5 separate regions of the Homo sapiens genome follow, and regions 1, 2, 4 and 5 are each linked to region 3. The links come from fine-mapping of genetic effects on gene expression. A gene starts in region 3. Each other region holds a variant in brackets. All regions are shown on one strand. Distances are between the middles of the regions. Region 1 holds the start of MYOPARR (myogenin promoter associated myogenic regulatory antisense long non coding RNA). Region 2 overlaps PPFIA4 (PPFI scaffold protein A4). Region 3 holds the start of PPFIA4 (PPFI scaffold protein A4). Region 4 overlaps PPFIA4 (PPFI scaffold protein A4). Region 5 has its middle 39 kb from the start of ELF3.

Region 1 (4,114 bases), 57 kb before region 3:
GCTGAGCAGAGAGAAAACCCACTCAGTCTCATTGGAACTCCAGCAGGCCTGCACAGAGCGACCTTCACTGGGCCACAAAATCTGTCTCCATCACCCTTATCGCCAGAGTCAGGAGAACCAGGGACCCCTTTAAGCTGGTGTCCTGTGAGAGCAGAACCACCACCCAGGATGGAAGCCAGGAAGGCCTGGAAGCAGGGCCTCTGGGGTGTGAGAGGAGCTAGTTACAAAGATTCTGGGGTTGGGGATGGCCTGGGCTGGAAGGCCACAGCCTGTGGCCCACCCTCCAACCCCACCACAGGTACTTCTGCCCACTGGGACTAGGCAGAGAGAGACATCAAAGAATGGCTGTGCCCCGACCTTGGGCCTTCGCCCTGTCTTGCAGGTGCCCAGCGAATGCAGCTCTCACAGCGCCTCCTGCAGTCCAGAGTGGGGCAGTGCACTGGAGTTCAGCGCCAACCCAGGGGGTAAGTAAGGCCTGACTGGTAACCTTGGCTCCAATCCCTCAGTCCCTCCCTGGGCCAGGTTCTCCCCTCTTACCTTATTCCTTGCTCCGGTCCTCTTCCCTTGGGTCTCTCTAGGGACCTGCTGACTCCAAGGCCCAAAGGGTGGGCTGGGAGGTTCTGTGTGCCCCTGCAGTCTTGACCAGCAAAGGAGTGATAGTAGCTCCTGCAGCTCCCCAGCTGATGCCTGGTGGTTGACCTTCTCCACAGAGAGGACAATGTCCCTGCCCCAGGGGTCCCTGTGAAGTGCTGAGTCAGTGCTGCAAAACTGGGCCGAGCAAAGGGCAGGTCCAGTCTCTGGGGAGCTCCATCCTGCTCCAACTTGAGTGGCTGCTTCCAAACCCTACCTACTAGGGGAGTTCAGAAAAGAGGCGCATACACACACACACACACACACACACACACACACACACACTCACAGAGCATGGGGAAAGGCAGGGACTAGGGAGTAGAACTCCGGAGCTTTGTCATTCATCTGTCCTGGAAAACCTCTGTCACCCCAAGGGTCCCATCCTCTATTCTGGGCCTCAAGAACCCCCACTGCTCACCCAGGTACCACCTTCCCACCTCCCCTTACAGATCATCTGCTCACGGCTGACCCTACAGATGCCCACAACCTGCACTCCCTCACCTCCATCGTGGACAGCATCACAGTGGAAGATGTGTCTGTGGCCTTCCCAGATGAAACCATGCCCAACTGAGATTGTCTTCCAAGCCGGGCATCCTTGCGAGCCCCCCAAGCTGGCCACAGATGCCACTACTTCTGTAGCAGGGGCCTCCTAAGCCAGGCTGCCCTGATGCTAGGAAGCCAGCTCTGGGGTGCCATAGGCCAGACTATCCCCTTCCTCATCCATGTAAGGTTAACCCACCCCCCAGCAAGGGACTGGACGCCCTCATTCAGCTGCCTCCTTAGAGGAGAGGGCATCCCCTTTCCAGGGAGGTAAAGCAGGGGACCAGAGCGCCCCCTCGTGTATGCCCCAGCTCAGGGGGCAAACTCAGGAGCTTCCTTTTTATCATAACGCGGCCTCTAATTCCACCCCCCAAGTGAAACGGTTTGAGAGACGCAGTGCCCTGACCTGGACAAGCTGTGCACGTCTCCTGTTCTGGTCTCTTCCCGATGCCAGTGGCTGGGCTGGGCCTGCCCTGAATTGAGAGAGAAGAAGGGGAGAGGAACAGCCCTCTGTTCCCAAGTCCCTGGGGGGCCAAACTTTTGCAGTGAATATTGGGAACCTTCCAGTGGTTTTATGTTTTGTTTTGTTTCGTGTGTTGTTTGTAAAGCTGCCATCCGACCAAGGTCTCCTGTGCTGAAGTTGCCGGGGACAGGCAGGGAAAAGGGGTTGGGGCCTCTTGGGGGTGATTTCTTTTGTTAACAAAGCATTGTGTGGTTTTGCCATTGTTTTGTATTTTTTTTTTTTTTTTTTTTTTTTGCTAACTTATTTGGATTTCCTTTTTTAAAAAATGAATAAAGACTGGTTGCCAGAAGAGTGTCGGTGATGATGCAGAGGGAGGGAAATGACTGACAGCCCTGCCCCTTCCCACTGAGCAGTCCAGACACACCCTAGTGGGTGGGGCTCCACAGCGCTAAGGGCCTCATCTTGCTGGTGGTCACTAGGCACTGGGGACCCCTGCTCTTTTCACCATGATAAAGGAAATCGAGCATGTCTGGACCTCAGTCTAGGTGGAGACCAGATTCCACAGACATCCTTGTGGGACACGGAGGACAACTGGCTATGACTATACTTCAAAGCCACTGCTCACAGGCTGCTGTGCTCTGTGTTATGTCCCAACAGGTCCGCTGGTTTCAGTTAACTGAGCACCTCGTAAGCCCAGTGCTCAGCCCACAGCCAA[G/C]GTGCAGAGCTAGAAGTTGTGGTTTCCCTTCCCTAGTCCCCACCTCTGCCCTGGTGTCACAATACCAGGAGCCCTGTAGAGAAGTGGGAGGTGAGGAAGGGGGATCAGACACTGTCATTTCCTTGCGGGCCAAATAGCATGGCCCCTCCCCATTCTCCTCCATTCCCTTCAGGCCGAAGGGGATTGTGGTTCCTGCTTGCAGCTCCCAGCATGAAGGAGATTCAGATTTAGCTCGGGGAGGGTAAAGGGGTCCACAAAGAACAATCGAAGAGAAGCTGGGGTTCTCTTCATTTGGGGTGCTATTTTCAAACATTAGCTTCCTGAGGTTAGAAGGTGGGTGGGAAATTGAGAACAGAGATTTTTGGGTAGACATTACATGAGGATTAACTGGGGAGTTAACAGGAGCTAGAATTCAAACGGAACATGGACATCTACTGAAAACTTTATTAATTCCAACTGCCTGGGGCTAAGTTCATCAGATTTATTGCAAATTATAAGTTTCAGAATCATCACCGAAGCAGGGATTCAGAGCATGGTACGTTCCAGCCCTGCTTAATCCTTCGGGGCCCTTGACAACGGACTTAACCCAGTGTTGCCTGAGGCTCTAGCGACCACCCTGCACCAGCTCCGGGCTCAGCTGGGCCATCTCTCCCACACCCACCCTCCTGACCTTACTGCTGGAGAGGAGAGTTACCACTGTGCCCCCCGAGTTTCTTCAGAAACTCTGCCTAAGGAAAAGAATCAGAAGAAGCCTCTGGAGGCTCCCAGAACTCAGGCGAGGGTGCAGAAGGGAGGGTCTCCCCCACTGCCTGCTTGTCCCAAACCAGTCAGGCAGGGCTTATTGGGAATTGCAAATTGGCCTACTCTGCTCCCATTGGTGGGATTTTCTTCTTTTCAAGTTGGTATCACTGAGTTTAGTCTTTCCCCCTTGGAGGGGCTGGAGAGGAAGACCAAGGTCATTTCCATGACTCTTAGCCCTGATTCACTGCCCTGGGGAATGAGGAGGGCAACTGGGTGGGCTGCAGTGCCTTGGCTCTGGAATCTACATTCACTCCCTTATTACCCTCCGAAAATACTCAGAACACATTCATGGAGGATCGTCTCCCTTCAAGTTCATTTCCTCTGCCCCTGGCACCTCCCACACTCCCAGGGTGGAAACCACCCTCTCCCCTGCAGCTATGACCTGCCCATCCCTTGCCCTCCTTCTTACTGGGATAAGAAGGGCTGGCCAAGGAAGGCACTCAGCTCTGCTGAAGGACAGGTTCTGGGGCTGCTGGATATATTTTTTAAGTCTGCTCCTCTTCAGTTATCCTGACAATTAGACAGTGAGGGTCACATTCAGACTCGGGAAAGAATGAACAGTCCTCAGCACTGTAGTCACTGTCTACTTACTTTTTCATGTCTTTAAGTCCTTAAGGGAAAAACAGTTTGCTAGAATTCCACAGGTGTGAATGGCAAACTCTGCTAAGCAGCAGGCCAGCCTCACTCGTTATTTTCACAGAATAAACAATTGTTATCGAAGCATGGGGACTTTCTTAAATTAGCAAATGCTTAATCTTCACAACAGAATTACAGAAAAGACTCCAATTAATGAATAATGAGTTGGAGTTCTTTAGGGAGATTAGCTCAAATTTGTTCTTTAGTTGGAAGCACCTACAATAAATCAAACTGTATTAATCAAATGTTGCTTAATAATGGACTTTAGGGAATCCACTACAATGAAAAGATAAATATTACTTAAAATTGGCATACCAATTGTTGGTGTG
Region 2 (4,114 bases), 44 kb before region 3:
CTACCCAAGACAAGTTCTTCTAGGGCTGGTCCACCTCCTCAACCCCCTGACATTATCCCCATCCCCTCTGGCTCTCCTCCCATAGACTAGCCTTCCAACAATTAGCCCAGGGAAGGCAGAACTCATGAACCTCAATCCAACGAAGATGACCAAATCCCCAAGGCTCCTAATTCATGGCCAGGTACTCACGTCATCCAGCTTCCGGTCTGTGCCCAAGGCCAACAGGTTATTGAACTCTCTTTCCATCACTTGGCGTGCCTGCAGTCCATAGAGCAGGAGAGGGAAAGGTGGGAAGGGCTATAGTTAACTACCTTTATGCCATCTTTCACCATTTTCCAAGGGTCCAAGGTCAGAGATGCAAGGCTCCAGTGCATTTAGCCCATTAGAGGCCTTTACACACCTTTTTGAAGCTGCTCCTTCAAGCAAACTCATAAGTAAAGCTGTAAGCCTAGGATTCTTTCATATACAGCAAATTAGAACAACATAATTTTTTTTTTTAAAGTAGTGGCCGGGCACTTTGGGAGGCCGAGGCGGGTAGATCACAAGGTCAGAAGGTCAAGACCATCCTGACTAACACAGTGAAACCCCGTCTCTACGAAAAATACAAAAAATTAGCCAGGCATGGTGTGGCAGGCGCCTGTAGTCCCAGCTACTCGGGAGGCTGAGGCAGGAGAATTGCTTGAACCCGGGAGGCGGAGCTTGCAGTGAGCCGAAATGGCACTACTGCACTCCAGCCTGGGGGACAGAGTGAGACTCTGTCTCAAAAAAAAAAAAAAAAATAGCAGTCTTGGCAACATACTGAGACCCTGTCTCAAAAAAAAAAAAAAATTTAATTAACTGGGCATGGTTGTGAACACCTACAGTCCCAGCTACCAGTTAGTTGGGCAGGAGGATAGCTTGATCCCAGGAGTCTGAGGCTACAGTGAGCTATGATCACACCTGCACTCCAGATCGGGTGATAGAACAAGACCCTGTCTCTAAGAAAAAAAAAAAACAAAAAAGTGGGATCATAGAACACATAGATAAAGAGACGTCACCTACTTGGAAAAAAAATTGTCTGAAAGGGGAAAATTGTGCCTGTCTTTCTCTTTCTGGAGGGGTAAGTAAGCATGTAAACCATGGATAACCAGAACATGACTGATTTGGATTAAATAAATATATCTGATAAGTTTTCACATCAAAAACTTAAAATTAGGAAGCCTGCTCAGCTGTGGATACTGGTTGTCCCTGGGCTGTGTGCATACAGACTCTCTCTAGGCCTCCCAGGAGATTAACTCATTCAGAGTTTTCAGAAATGCCAAAAACAGAAAAGTTTTCAAAACTGCTACCAGATATTTTTAACCTTTTTTTTTTTTTTTTTTTTTGAGGGAGACAGGGTCTCATTCTGTTGCCCAGGCTGGAGTGCAGTGGCACAATCATGGCTCACTGCAGCCTTAAACTCCTGGGCTCAAGCAAAACTCCCGCCTCAGCCTCCCGAGTAATTGGGACTACAGTCACGCATTACCAAACCCAGTTAATTTTTTAAACTTTTTGTAGAGACTGGGTCTCACTATGTTGCCCAGGCTGGTCTTAAACTCCTGGCCTCAAGCAATCCTCCCACCTTGACCTCCCAAAATGCTGAGCATACAGGCCTGAGCTACCACACCGAGCCATTTTTAACCATTTTAAATGAGGGATTCCGTATTGGGTCACACACTACTTCTCCCAACAGCTAAGCTCAATGACGGGGTCAGGAAATTAAGAAAGGTTAGAAAGCCATAGGGAGGTGTCCCTGCTACTATTTACAGAATTACTGCTATCCTCCAAAACTGAATGCATTAGAGATAGGAAATCAAAGAAAGAGAAAAGTCCATTTCTAGGTAGAAAATATTAAGCGTAGAGTTCCATAAGGACAGTCTGTGCCAGTATTGGGAACATAACATTTTTAGAAATGATCTGAAAGGAGAAGCACAGTAAATTTCAAGTATCCAAATGACACTGCTCCTCTGGGCAGTGAAAGGTGAGGAGGATAGGTGTAAATTTCAGAAGCGTCTCACAAAGAGAGGTGAGTGGGCAGCAAAGTGGCAGACGAGGCTTGCCCGAAGTGGGCAAGTGGAGAGAACGCACTTGGGGGAAAAATCCAGGCTCCTCTTGGAGAATGAAGGGATCTGTCCTATCTATTTTGACTGGTTGGGGTGGGGGCGGGGCGGGGGGGTCACTGCAGAATGCCTACAGGACACAATGGCCCTGTGCACTGCCACCACCCCCAAAAGGCCAACACACTGCCCAGAATTACGAGACAACACAGCCCTACCCTCATTCAAGCCAAAACGTGTCTGCTCCCAGAATAGCCTGTGCAGCTCTGGTGGCTGAATTTCAAAAGAGATCTGACAGCTGCAAACAGTCCAGACAAGGGCAGCTAAAACAATCAGGGGACAGAGGCGAGTCTATATGAGGAAAGCCTAAAAGAATTAAGAACACTCCGTCTGGAGAGACAAAGGCTTGGGCCCAGAGGCAATACAATCAGAGTTTATGAAATCATAAAAGGTGAGAACTAGTTAAATACAAATATCCTTACCAAACCTAAAC[C/T]ATCAAGAGGAGGTAGTTCCTTCCCCAGGGGCCTGACAGGGGCATTTTCAGGACAAATAAAATCAGGAAGTACTCTACACAACAAGCAGTACTTCTAGAATCTATTACCCACAGGAAGTTAGAAAGGCCAAAAATATAAATAGGTTCAAGAGAATTTAGATATATTCTTAGATGACAGCTCCATAAAAATGATGAAATGTAATTTCATGAGATGTTTAATCATTTGAGCTGTTGACAGAGAGCCAAAGCCCTGGTGTGGAGAGGCTCTGGGTTGTGTAATTTGGTATATTTAGCTTTTTTAAGGCTGGGGGCCCAGGAGCAGATCCCTAGGGTGGTAGACAAAGGTGATATGGGCTCTCTGGTCCCTAGGGGCCCTGGGGCTCATTCCCCTCTAAGAAAAGTCAGATCAGAGAAGCAGGATGAAAAGGAAGGCTCAGAGTCTCAGCTATGAAGTGGGGTTAGGAGGAGATAGAGGTACCCAGGGCAGGACGGGGATGCGCATTGTAAGAGCACACTGTGTGCCAGGCCCACGCTAGGTGTGCTCTGTATGTGAAGGCCATGTGTTCCCATGAGGGCTTGCTTATGCACAGCGATCACTTGGAGAATTGAGGACATTGCGATCCCCTCTGGCATAGGCCCTAGAAAAGCTCCCCACCCCCCAAGATACCTAAGCCTTTGTGTATGAGGGAAAGAAAGAGAGCAAGTGAGGGATACAGGGAGAGACTCAAGTTGACTGATTAAAAGGCTGCCCACCTGGGTGTTCTGTGTGGGGATCTGGAGGATCAGGGCCAGTGTGTTGTGGTCGAAGTTCTCGTCCAGGGCCAGCAAGGCTCCATGCACACCACTCTCATGCAGGTTTCCTGCGTAGTCCCGGAGCCCAATAGACTGGACCCAATGAACCACCTGGTCGTTGGTCCAGACTAACACATCTGGAGTGTGGGGGAAGAAAAGGGACGGAAGGAGATACTACGTTTCATCAAGGGCCCTCCAAGGACAGAAGCAGAGCTCCCTAAACCCAGAGCCGCAGTCCACCCTGCTCTCTGACCCCCACTCCATCCCTAAATTTCCATATCTTCTTTCTCTCCTCCCTGGCACCTGGGTGCCTGGGGAACCAACCCCCCACTCACTCCATCCCTGCCAGTTTACAGGACCCGGGGTCAGGCCAACAGGCTCCAAGCTTTCTCCCCAGAACCCTTGCACGGGTCATCCCCCTGACCCAAGCTGGAATGGCCTTCTTATTCTTTCCACCTTCAAGGTCTCCTCTAAGACTTGCATCTCCCATCCAGCCCCATCCAGATCAACAAGTTCCACAGGCACACCAGTCTATAACACCGTCCCAGAGGATTCACTGCATTTGTCCAGTTGGTGGCTGCTATCTGGTATGTGGGGTTGAGGGAGGGGAATTATAGACAACTTGGCATGGACTATGTCTCCTCCATCAGACTGGGAGCTCCCTAAGGTGAGGCTGCATCTTCCTTTTCAGACTGGAAGATTCCCTGAGACACAGAATGCCTCCCCTCCACTTGGCCCAAGGCAGGGACCAGCC
Region 3 (4,114 bases):
TAGCTCTAGCTCTGCCATCCTCAGAGGCTCTGTGAGGACCTATAAGCCATCCCTGACAACTCTTTCCAACTCTAAGATTTCAGCAATCAACTCAGAGATGAGACCCAGGAGCCTGGCTGCCTGCCATGCCCTGCCCCTCCAGCCCTCCTTTACAGCCCAGCAGCCAGACCTCATGCACCACACGGTTCTGACATCACGACATGCTCAGCAGCACAAACCCCAACTCCACTGGATGCGAATTCCCTTCTACACCCTCCTCCCCCACACTATTCCATCTTCCAGAGATGGCGTCTCCCACTACACAGAGTGTCTAGGACATTCTTGGCCCCCAATAACCATTTTGTCATTCATTATCTCCTTACTTTGAGATACCGTTTACCCCACGAAGCCTCCTCAAGCCTCAGGACAAAATCTGAGAAAATAACCAAGGGAAATCATTCAAGCTGCCCTTTTGCTTAGGCAGCTTCCCTGGGACTACCTGGCCAGTTAATAGTGGTAGGGGGTGTGTAGGTTGGAGTCTAATTCAGACAGCTGTTTGAAAGCACGTGGACACAGTTCTTTCTTTTTCTAATCCAACAGCAATGTAACAGAATGGGGATGGGCGGTGAGAAGGGTGTTAACAGAATACCTGCTATGTGTGCCTCCTATGTGTACCTTTCAGCTACTCCGTGGCTGTAAATTGCCTTCAGAAGACCTAGCACCGAGCATAGTATCTGGCAGATAGTAGGTGTCCAACAAATGTTTGCTGGATGTTGAGCAAAGTACTAGGTACCAGATCCAAGAACTCTGGAAAGGACTATGGGAAATCCCTGAAACCTGGCTCCTGGAGGGGACCCTTAAGCTCACACCAGGAGGGGATCTCCCTGCGAAGCAGCGCCTCCTTAACCACTTGCTCTCCACACAGAACGGCCCCAACTCTCCTGCTCCTCTGATGGAAACTACCAGCACACCTCTCCTCAAAGGTGACATCAGCTCCTAGTGGCACCTTGTCCTGGATCCCTCCTCCTTCTCGAAGAAAACCACCTACACCATGTCTCCAAGTCCTCCAGCCCGACCTCTCTCTTCCCACCCACCATCAAAACCTCAAAATCTGCGCTGGAAAACATCCCTACTGCGTGGACGTAAGTCAGCGCCCCACTCCCACCCTCCCAGTTCAGGCATCTCTATTCCAGCCCTCTTTTCCTGTTGCGCCCACCCCTGTCCCCACCCCCACCAGGCCTCGGGTTGGCCGCTCCTTCCACCCCACCGCCCTGGCACTGCGGAGATGGGGGCATCTCTGGCACAGACTGAGGCTGGCAGTTCGAGGAATGGAGAGCTAGCGACAGGAACAGGGGTGCTATGAGCAACTCGGGAAAGATTAAGACCCCCGCGAAGAGCGAAGACCTCAGCCCATCAGAATCGCGTCCCCAAAGGAGTGGGGTTGGCCCCGGAGCCGAGAGGCGCTTTTTCTGACTCTCCTGGAGGGGAAATGGGGGCGCAGTCTGCTCCGTTCCCACCGGGAGACTCGCCAACTCGGCCCCCTCCCCTGAAGCCGATGGAGCAGAGGGCGCACTCCACGCCCTCCCCGCAGATCAGGCATCGCCCCTATCCTCACCCCCAAGGGCACAGGGCACCGCAAAGGAGGGCGAGGGGCGGCAGGGTAAGCAGTACCGACGCCTGCCGGAGGTAGCACATACGGAGTCAAAAAGGGCTGTTTCCCGAGGTGCGATAGACGAGACCCCTCCCCAAACTGTCGAGGGGAGCTGGAGATGGGGAAAAGACGCATCCTACCCCAGTCCAGGCTCTGGGCGCTCACCTGCCTGCAAATGCCGAAGGCCAGGCGGCTAGGCTCGGAAGCAGCAGGGAGCCGCCCCCGACCCGTGCAGCCCGACACGTCCTAGAGCCGAGCCGGCGCCGAGGTAGCTGCAGCCTCCGCCGCCCAAGCGCGCGGCCGCGGGGCCCCGCCCCCTTCCTCCGCGGACAACCCCCCCCGGCTCCGCCCCCTAGGCGGGGCTGGGCTGCCGCGACCGAGGCCACGCCTCCCGCCCCCAAGCGCCTCGGGTCCGGGCACGTGACGAGAGCGCCGCTTTGAGGCCGCGCGCCATCTTGGTTCAGCCTAGGAGGTGGCGAAGTGCCAGAGTTTTATTCCGCAGAAGGGTCTCAGGGCCCAGGAGTGCTGCCCACATTCTGCCCCTCCCTCTGAACTCGCCCTTGTTCCTAGTCTAACAGCCCGTTCCCTAAATTGGCCTTAGTCTCGGCCTTGTAATTGTCAAGTTTGTCACCTTTCACGCTTGCTCTCCTGCCCGTTCCTTGCTTTTCCTTTGATCGCACCCATTTTTTAAGTGGGGAAACTTGATATCCGGATACTACATCTGTAGTATGCTCTTCAGTGAATTGTGTCGCTTGCCTTCAGGCACCTGGCTGTTCTAACACTGTTACTACAAAATGAAGGGTTTGTCTATTACATATACATAGTATGAAAACAAGTCTCAAATGCCAAAATTCCTGACTGACAAATTTTAGCTAAGCCTCTCCATTTTCCTGAATTGCTCCCTTACCCTGCCCCCTGTGGCTATTAATGCATCTTTTCCATCTGCTTTGTGAAGTTTCATCACAGTGCCTACTCAATCCTTTACCAATACCCAGTAAGCACCACTAAAAGTGTGAACAATTTTTATATACATGCAATGTGTTCATGTGTGTGTATTTATAGATATATACACAGCATGTTCTATATCAGCAGCAAATGCTATAGTTGAGATCAGTGACACATACAACCTTCTCTCATTTATCTTCCACCCAATATATTCACCATTTGGCATAATTTCCTTGCGTCTCTTTGAAGACAGGGAAATCTTGAGTAATTCTGATCTGAGGGGTGGGTAAGTGAAGCTAAATCTGTGACCCTTGAACAACAGGGCCTTCAACTGCACAGGGCCAGTTGCATGCAGATTTTCTTCCTTCCCCGCCACCCCTGAGACAGCAAGACTACCCCTCCTCTTCTTACTCGTCAGCCTGCTCAACATGATGACCCACTTAATGAACAGTAAATGTATTTTCTCTTCTTTGATTTTCTTAATAACATTTTCTTTTCTCGAGCTTATTATAATAAGGTATATACTACATATACAAAATGCACATTAATCAACTGTTTATGTTATCAATAAGGCTTCCAGTCAACAGTAGGCTATTAAGTTTTCGGGCAGTCAAAAGTCATAGCAGATTTTCAACTGTGTGAGGGTCTGTGTCCATAACTCTCACAGCGTTCAAGGATCAATTTATGTTGCTTGACAGAGCAAAATCACAGTATATAACCTGTAGTCCAGAAAGTTCTAATTCTTCTTCGGGTGGTCTGGGGTCCTCACCAAAAGGAAATCCCTGAGACACTTCACATCCTGTCACTAATAAAGCATGTATCATGCTAGAAACGGCAACTCAGCCAATGCAGAGGAAGGCTGAAGCCAAGATAACGACTGGTAACACATTTTACCAAATGTTTGTCAATATTATGCTGAGAGAGAGCTGAGGCAGTATCTAGTACTGTATCTGTCACCATACCATGGAATTTGACACAAAAAACTCAGAGCTGAGTCAGAATACAATTATTAAGCCAAATTTATTTCACCCCCTTTTTAAAGGTACTCCTAAGCGGGGAACAATGCACCAAGACACTCCTGCTCCATGGCATCTTTAGTTCAGGCAACCTGGCAGGGACTGTGCTTCTCCCCTCCTGCCTCAAAGAGGCAACTTTTAATTGTAGAGATCTGCAAAGTGCTCATTGTCCTTAGGTTGTCTGTTATCACTCAAATGCCCAAATTCTGTTTTTGACTGACCCAGGCTCACTCTGTGTGAACAGTTTTAATACCACCCTCAACGTGGGATAAGGTTAGCTGTTAGCAGCAAAATTAAGCAGATGCTTTCTAGGAATATTCCTAGGGAAGATGGTAAAAAAAAAAAAACAAAAATGTGAATTTAGCAGTTTGCCTCACAAGATTTTCACTTTTAAAGAATACTGTCTTAATGCCCACCTCCTGGCAATATCCAGGTAATATCCAGCTCACTGGTTAATTTTGGATGGTGGAGGGTGGGAGGAGAGACAAGCAGCAAGGTTTTCTCCTTAGCAAAACAGAAAAAC
Region 4 (4,114 bases), 33 kb before region 3:
AGGGCCAGGAATGCAGGGGCCACAGTCCTCCAGGGCTCCTCACCTGCCACCCTGAGAAACCAGAACAAGCAGTTTGAGGGAACTGGGTGGGGGCGGGGGGCACTCTGATGGGAGCAGAGAACCTATGTCCAGGGCTTTTCATATGAAGGACTCAGAGATTCCTGCTGCGGAGAGAACCTACCAGAAGAACACTGTCCTGAAGTTTTGGGAGCTGGTTCTAGACAGGGTAGGGAGTCTTACCTGAGCCCAGCTGCCCTCCTCACTGTCCTAGCAGGAACGAGTGCAGCGTGTTAGGGGAAACAGGCAAAGTCAAGAAACCCATCAGCTCTACCCTAGGCCCCATCAAGGAGAGGAAAAAGACATCCCAGTATCTGGCTGGGTGACTGGGGAAAGCTCGTCAGGATGGTTAAGAGAGAACACAAGGTTGGTGTGTGCACCCATGTTTGCGTTGAGGTGGGGCAAATGTGTGTGTGGCAAAAACACACACCTCCCAGGCTTGACTGGGAGCCAGGCAAGATGCCCAGCTCTCCCAACACTCCCCATTCCTCCACCAGGGAGGAAGCACAAGGGCAGAGACTCTGTGGCTCAGGTCCATAGCAGGGCAAAGCCCTCCCCAGCCCAACTCTCCTCCGCTGTAGCACACCAGTGGCCCAGGGCAAGCTTGTGACCTCCTGGGAAGGATCACACACATACAAACTGCTCCGCTCCCAGCCTCACCCCTCTCCCGACAACCCTCCACCGTGACAGCAGATCACACCTCAGGGATACCAACCTCACGTGAGATCGATGGCAGCCCACTCTGACTGCCCACAGCCTTCCCCTCATCCTCATGGGAGTATCAGTCCCAACCCCAGGCCCAGGGACAAAGGCCAAGGGCCAGACTCACTGTTTTAGTAGATGTTTCCAGAGTTTCCATCTCTTCATGGGTGACCCAGACATTCCCAGAAGACTGCAGGCAGAGAGGAAACCTAGCTGGTCCTGGGTGTGGGTCCCCAGGATCCCCATCAGGCTGGGAGCCCAAAGGACAAGGACAAAGCTCCCTCCCTGAGTCCTCTGAAATGGGGGCTGGTCTCAATCATGGAGATGGCCGACAATGAAAGACTCCACCCCAGGGGCCCACAGAGCAGTCCGCATTCTTGTGTTAGAGGACCAAGACAATATTCACAAATGCCCTCTTCCCTTTGTTTCCCCCAACCTGACAACCATATAAAACCCCAGAAAGCCCATCCTGGAAACTGCCCAGAGACGTGGAAATTTTGGCAGAGTAGGGATGGGGAGATGGAGCCCCATGGGTGGTATGTGAAAGGCAGGGAACCAAGGCTGCTGGTATCCTCCTAGAATCAACATCATATCCTCCTGAAGACCAGGGAGAGCCCTTTGTGAGGATGGGAAGGAAGGGGCAGGGCTCAATGCTGCCATCTTCCCAAAGCCCAACAGGAGACCTTGCAAACTATGTTCCAGGACCTCTGAAAATGTCCTGGGCAAAGGAGGGGCCACTCACAGTCCTGGAGGTGGGTGGGGCAGAGGGGCTGGTCAATGACACCATCTCCTGAATGGCCAGGCGGAGCTTGAGCCGGTGCAGGGCATTGCTGATGCCGATCTCCCGCTGGATCTCTGTGTCCGACAGAGCGGACATGATGGCACCACTCTTGACGTTGGCCCGGCAGGCTGCCACATACCAGGCAGGCATCCCCACCCAGAGCTGCAGACACCGGGCACAGGGAGGTAATTCAAGGCCTGGGCCCTACCACCAAGAGTTTGGCAACAGCAAGGGGCAAGGGCCAGGCCTCATCCACGGACTCGAATAGCAAATACAGATCATAGGAATGTGGCGGTCATCAAACCCCTCACTCTCCCATTTTACAGATTAAAAGTAGCATCAACTCTCTCCTGCGACTGGTATGTGTGTGTGTTGGGGAGGGGGAGGGGGGCTAAATGCTAGGTATGGCACACTTCCACTTGGCAGGGGAGAAACACACTGTAAAAGTTCTAGGACACCACCCCTCTGCCCACCCCAAGCATCCTTCCCTCCAGACCCCTGAGTGGACTCCCTTTGCTCAGGCTTACCTCCAACCAGGAGACCACAGTAGGACCATCCCACTGGGCAAAGGGCATTCCTTTCCTGCGGGCATCTTCAAGCAGCTGGTGTCTTATAGGAAGAGGAACAACAGACTCACTAGTTCTTCCTTCTCCCTTAACTGTTCTTGCTCCAGGGACCACTGGGCTGTGCAAGAGCTGGAGACCCACAACCCTTGCTCCCCACCCTGGACTTCCTCTGCTCTGCTCTTCCTTCTTCCTCTGAAGAAATACAACAAGAAATGGGGCAGGAACACCT[G/C]ACCACCCCAAGAGGGCGAGGAGCTCTCTGTTTGCATGTGACCTGACATTGACTTAGAGATTTCAATCTGCCCTGCCAGAGACCCAGAGGACCCAGGTCACTGTCCCATAACCCCCTTGCCTCCTTCTCCCTAGGCTCATCCTAAGAACCTCCTCCCAGCCCTGCTGTGCCCACATGGACCAGACCAACTCAGTTCAGGAAGGGCCTTGCTGGGGTCTGGGTCTCTGAGCTCAGTTTCACAGCAGCCCAGGGGAAGGGAAGTGGGTAGGGGGCTGGGCCCCACCCTGGCAGACCCTGGCCTGTGGCTCTTACTTCTTCTTTAGCCGCCGGTCCTTCTCTGCCTGGGTCCCCAGCTTGGCAGGCACCATAGGCTCCTGCATACTGAATTCGGAGTCTGTTAGCAGAACTACAAGGAAAGAGATGTGTGTGTCAGCCAGCCCCTCTGCCTCTCCTCCCTTGCCTGGATCAGGGGTGGGGAACAGAAGCAGCAGGAGGCTCCTTGGCAGAGGACAACCCATGGCCTGACGGGACCATTATTCCTGGAGCTTCTGCTCAGTGTCCCTGCATCCAAGCAGTCTCAGAGAATGGCATCAAGCGGGTCATCCCCAGTTCAGAGAGTCTCCCCAGGAGCCTCAGCCTTGGGGGTGTTTTCCAGCCAGATGGACCCAAGTTATCGACCCTAGAATCCTAGACAGAACCTGTCCTTCCTCCAAGCCAAGGTGCAAAGGAAACCCAGAGCCCCAAACACAAGTGGGCTACAAGGCTCAGAGAGAAGGATGACCCTGGCTTGGGTCAGGGGTGTGGAAATCCACACACTGAGAGCTGTGTCTCTGAGCCTCCTTCTCTGGGTGCATTCACTTGCACAAAACCACAAAGGGGAACATGCAGAGTTCTGTCTTCTACTAAACATCTCCTTGAATTGATGCTAGAACCCTTCAGAATTCGTGGCCAGAGGCAGAATCTTAGAATTCTTTTAAGTCCCGGTCACCCCCCCACAGTGCACAGTAGGCAACAAGTTTGGGTAATCCAGAAACCAATCTGAGGTGCTGTCTCAGGTTTAGGTGCCAACGTGTGTGGAGAGCATCGAAAATCATAAGGCTTCACCCAAAATGCTTCTTCCCCTGATCAAACCGTTCAGCTTCCCCTGTCTGTGGCCAGCTCCACAACTCCCCTCACCCCTGTGGACTGGGGAAGAAGGAGCTGGACCTCATTCTCTGGGCTGACACTCCCATATTCTGAGCAGAGGTGGCCATGTTCCTCCTCCCCGTTCCCAGACCACCCCTTTCCTTCACACACAGACCTCTCCCTGTCTCAGCAAATTCCTCTTTCTCCTTCCTCTTTCCCCAACCTCCTCCTCGCGTGCTCTCCCTCCTCCTCCTCCTCAGCCAGCTAGCTGTCTTCTGATTCACATCTTCCTGAGCTGCAGAAAGGTCTAATTATGCATTTGGGTCCAAAGGTTCCTTTATTCTAGTTGATGAGTTCCTCCCCTGCACGAAATTCATCAATGCTCCCACTGCCTCAGGGGAACTCTTAAACTAAAACAGATGCTGCAAGGCCCTCACAGCTGGCCCCAGCCTAGCTGTCCAGTCCCATCTCCCCACTCCGCCCACCCTCCTCCTTCTCAACTCAGAATATGCATAAGTACATACCAACCTCTCACACCCACAAACTTTTGCCTTTCCCAGACCAACCCCTTCCTCCACACACAGATGTCTCCCTGGCTCGGCTAATTCCTATGTGGCCCTCACACTTTAGCTCAGGTGTCGCTACCAAAGGAGG
Region 5 (4,114 bases), 980 kb after region 3:
CTTGGCCTCCCAAAGTGCTGGGATTACAGGCGTGAACCACTGCGCCTGGCCCCCACCAACTTTTTGCAAAATATTTGTAACAGTAGAACTTGGTTGGAATATTATTCGGCAATAAAAAGTAGTGAAGTACATCCAACAACATGGTGGAAACTTGAAAAGGATATGCCAAATGCAAGAGCCAATCCCATAAGACCGTAAGTTGTATGATTCCATTTATGTGAAATGTCCAGAATATCCAAATCTATAGAGACAGAAAGTAGATTAGTGGTTGCCAGAGACTGAGGGGAGAGAGAAATGGGGAGTGGCTGTTAATGGGCACAGCGTTTCTTTCTGGAGTGATAAAAATGTTCTGAAACGAGCTAGTGGTGATGGCTGCACAATTCTGTGAATGTATTAGAAACCACTGAAGTGTATACATTTAAAGGATGAATTTTATGGTATCGTGAATTAAATCTCAAAGAAGCTGCTATTTTTAAAAAGTACATGGCTATTATATGATTCAATCAGTGCCCAATGGGTAGAAAGAAGAAATGAAAAATCATATTAAATTCTACCCCCAGAGATAGCAACTGACAGCCTATTAGTGAGTGTCCTTCCAGACATTTTTCTGGCAATGTACACTCTTACAGATAGACAGAGTTACTCTCAATCTTTTCTAAGATCAAAAAACCTGAAGACCGTGACATACTCCTCGGTAACCTGGGCCAACCTCAAGAGTGAGTCTCGCCAGGCGCGGTGGCTCACGACTGTAATCCCAGCACTTTGGGAGGCCGAGGCGGGCAGATCACCTGAGGTCAGGAGTTCAAGACCAGCCTGACTAACATAGTGAAACCCTGTCTCTACTAAAACTACAAAAAGTAGCCGGGCACAGTGGCGGGCACCTGTAATCCCAGCTACTCAGGAGGCTGAGGCAGGAGAATCACTTGAACTCGGGAGGCAGAGGTTGCAGTGAGCCAAGATCGTGCCATTGCACTCCAGCCCAGGGAACAGAGCGAGATTCCGTCTCAACAACAACAAAAACATTTATTTATTTTTATTATTTTTTTGAGACAGAGTCTCGCTCTGTCGCCTAGGCTGGAGTGCAGTGGCAGGATCTCGGCTCACTGCAAGCTCCGCCTCCTGGGTTCATGCCATTCTCCTGCCTCAGCCTCCCAAGTAGCTGGGATTACAGCCATCTGCAACCACGCCCAGCTAATTTTTTGTATTTTTTGTATTTTTTTTTTTGAGACGGAGTCTCACTCTGTCGCCCAGGCTGGAGTGCAGTGACGTGATCTCGGCTCACTGCAAGCTCCGCCTCCCGGATTCACGCCATTCTCCTGCCTCCACCTCCCGAGTAGCTGGGACTACAGGCGCCTGCCACCACACCCGGCTAATTTTTTTATTATTTTTAGTAGGGACAGGGTTTCACCGTGTTAGCCAGGACGGGCTCGATCTCCTGACCTCGTGATCCACCTGTCTCGGCCTCCCAAAGTGCTGGGATTACAGGCGTGAGCCACCGCGCCCGGCAATTTTTTGTATTTTTAGTAGAGATGGTGTTTCACTGTGTTAGCCAGGATGGTCTCGATCTCCTGACCTTGTGATCCACACACCTCAACCTCCCAAAGTGCTGGGATTACAGGCGTGAGCCACCGCGCCCGGCCTAATTTTTGTATTTGTAGTAGAGACGGGGTTTTACCATGTTGGCCAGGCTGGTCTGGAACTCCTGACCTAAAGTGATCCGCCTGTCTCAGCTTCCCAGAGTGTTGGGATTACGGGCATGAGCCACTGCACCTGGCCTAATTTTTCTTTTCTTTTCTTTTTCTTTCTTTTTTTTTTTGAAGTGGAGTCTCACTTTGTAGCCCAGGCTGGAGTGCAGTGGGCAGATCTCGGTTCACTGCAACCTCCGCTTCCCGGATTCATGTGATTCTCCTGCCTCAGCTTCCAGAGTAGCTGGGATTACAGGTGTGCAGCCACCACGCCCTGCTAATTTTTGTAGTTTTACTAGAGTTTCACCATGTTGGCCAGGCTGGTCTCGAACTCCTGACCTCAAGTGATCTGCCCTCCTTGTCATCCCAAAGTGCTGGGATTACAGGCATGAGCCACCGCGCCCAGCTCCCACCTAATTTTTCAATTATTCATAGAGATGA[G/A]GTCTCAATGTGCTTCCAAGGCTGGTCTCAAAGTGCTAGGCTCAAGCAACCCGCCTGCCTCAGCCTCCCAAAGTGATGGGATTTCAGGCCTGAGCCACACAGCCCATCCCCAGAGAGATTCTCTTCATGCAGCCTGTGATGTGGTCTGCAGACTGGTTGGTACCAGTCCATGCTTAGAAACTATTAAAGTAATTTGACAGAAAAATGTTACATCTGTTCAACCCAATAACAACAACAACAGCAACAACAAAATGGGCTTATAATTTGTATATCCTTTCCTTTCCTTCTTTTCATTTTTCCAGCAATTCATTTTTATTATGCTTTGCAATAATTTTAGACTGGAAATTAAAAACAACCTAAACCAAAGCAAAAACAAAATTGGTCCTTTTTTTTTTTTTTTTTTTTTTCAAAATTGGTCCTTCACAAATAGTTTGAGAAGCTCTGGTCTACAAGACCTGGGCTGGTGTCCAGGCTCCACCACTGCAAGGTAACAACTTGACCTTGGGTGAGCGGCCCAACCTATATGACTCTTATATTTCCTTATAAGTAGAAAGGGATAATAATAGTACCTACTTCACAGGGTTGTTGAAAGACTTAGATAACATATGCAAAACACATGCCTACGTAATAGGGGTAGTTCTCCCCACCCTTTCCCGTCTGCTCCCATTCTTTCTAGTGACTCTGGGATGATATATTCTGAGAGATCAGGGGAAACCCAGCTTAAGAAAGAACGATGGAGCAATAAGTGCTGGAGACAGGCAGAGTCATGGCTCTAAAGAGTCGGGGAACAGCAAAGAGAGCTAGAAAATCTCTTCTAGAGGGAGCAAGAGCTGTACAGAGGGCTTCAGCCTTCCAGGGTGCCTGTGTTAGGAATAGGACTAACCTGTGAAGGGCATCAGACTATGGCAAAATAATTATTTTGGGCTGAAGGCAACTGAGATATAGCTGACACAGGAGAAGCTAGCTCTCCGCCCTCTCTCTGCCTAAAAGCAGGGCATAAGTTTCCCTTTGTAAAAGTGACATATTGGGGCCAGAAGTGGTGGCTCATGTCTGTAATCCCAGCACTTTGGGAGGCTGAGGTGTGTGGATCACTTGAGGCCAGGAGTTCAAGACCAGCCTGGCCAACAGGGTGAAACCTCATCTCTGCTAAAAAATACAAAAATTAAGGCCAGGTACGATGGCTCACACCTGTAATCCCAGCACTTTGGGAGGCTGAGGCAGACGGATCACCTGAGGTCGGGAGTTCGAGACCAGCCCGACCAACATGGACAGAAACCCCGTCTCTACTAAAAATACAAAATTAGCTGGGTGTGGTGGTGCATGCCTGTAATCCCAGCTACTCAGGAGGCTAAGGCAGGAGAATCGCTTGAACCCAGGAGGCGGAGGTTGTGGTGAGCCAAGATCGCACCATTGCACTCCAGCCTGGGCAACAACAGTGAAACTCCGTCTCAAAAAAAAAAAAAAAAAAAAATTAGCCAGTGTGGTGGTGGGAACCTGTAATCCCACCTACTCAGGAGGCTGAGGCACAAGAATCTCTTGAACCTGGGAGGTAGAGGTTACAGTGAGCCGAGATTGTACCACTGCACTCCAGCCTGGGTGACAGGTGAAACCCTGTTTCAAAAAAAATCCTGAATAATCCTTATCTATTGTTAGTTTCCCCATATATTTACTTTACCATAATTTACCACCCTAAAAGGAAAAGGCAGTAGGCAGTGAGCCATGGACCTGGAGGACCTTGAACAATTCCTTCTAGAGCTGAGAGACAGCCTGGGGACTGAGAACAAAAATCGCAGAGCTAACAGCCCATATGGATGACAGATGATATGACCTGGGGAGACAATCCCAACACTCCTTGGAGGTTGAGAACGCTTTCACTAGAGGAAAGGTGTGGAGGAAATGAGAGGGCCTTCCCCGTAAAGATCTGTTGAAGAAAACCACCATCACCAGAATATGCATAGTTCTTTGGCAAAGGTCAAGTAAAGATGAAA

Evidence for each region.
Region 1: its variant is fine-mapped to the expression of PPFIA4 in whole blood (TOPMed, PIP above 0.99). The same link has a PIP of 0.9 or more in neutrophils.
Region 2: its variant is fine-mapped to the expression of PPFIA4 in whole blood (TOPMed, PIP above 0.99).
Region 4: its variant is fine-mapped to the expression of PPFIA4 in blood mononuclear cells (TOPMed, PIP above 0.99). The same link has a PIP of 0.9 or more in monocytes and whole blood.
Region 5: its variant is fine-mapped to the expression of PPFIA4 in sigmoid colon (GTEx, PIP 0.97).

Annotation. Positions count from the first base shown.
Region 1 is chr1:203,080,997-203,085,110 of GRCh38, reverse strand. It overlaps MYOG (myogenin), which reads left to right. Exons shown (of 3, transcript NM_002479.6): 2 at 383-464; 3 at 1,080-1,982. The coding sequence ends at 1,201. MYOPARR (myogenin promoter associated myogenic regulatory antisense long non coding RNA) reads right to left here and starts at 1,316. Exons shown (of 3, transcript NR_160550.1): 1 at 1,132-1,316; 2 at 538-739. The variant G/C (reference allele first, on the strand shown) is at 2,349.
Region 2 is chr1:203,067,836-203,071,949 of GRCh38, reverse strand. PPFIA4 (PPFI scaffold protein A4) reads right to left here. Exons shown (of 30, transcript NM_001304331.2): 27 at 3,322-3,497; 28 at 190-258. Among named protein-coding and RNA genes, the nearest start is that of MYOPARR, 14 kb to the left of the region's middle. RefSeq lists an enhancer at 2,434-2,483. The variant C/T (reference allele first, on the strand shown) is at 2,569.
Region 3 is chr1:203,024,311-203,028,424 of GRCh38, reverse strand. PPFIA4 (PPFI scaffold protein A4) reads right to left here and starts at 1,934. Exons shown (of 30, transcript NM_001304331.2): 1 at 1,796-1,934. TMEM183A (transmembrane protein 183A) reads right to left here. Exons shown (of 8, transcript NM_138391.6): 8 at 3,577-4,114. RefSeq lists an enhancer at 1,487-2,008 and a silencer at 1,835-2,144.
Region 4 is chr1:203,057,805-203,061,918 of GRCh38, reverse strand. It overlaps PPFIA4 (PPFI scaffold protein A4), which reads right to left. Exons shown (of 30, transcript NM_001304331.2): 20 at 2,648-2,741; 21 at 2,068-2,149; 22 at 1,502-1,702; 23 at 887-949; 24 at 241-267. Among named protein-coding and RNA genes, the nearest start is that of MYOPARR, 24 kb to the left of the region's middle. RefSeq lists an enhancer at 326-910. The variant G/C (reference allele first, on the strand shown) is at 2,336.
Region 5 is chr1:202,047,932-202,052,045 of GRCh38, reverse strand. No RefSeq gene overlaps it. Among named protein-coding and RNA genes, the nearest start is that of ELF3, 39 kb to the right of the region's middle. The variant G/A (reference allele first, on the strand shown) is at 2,127.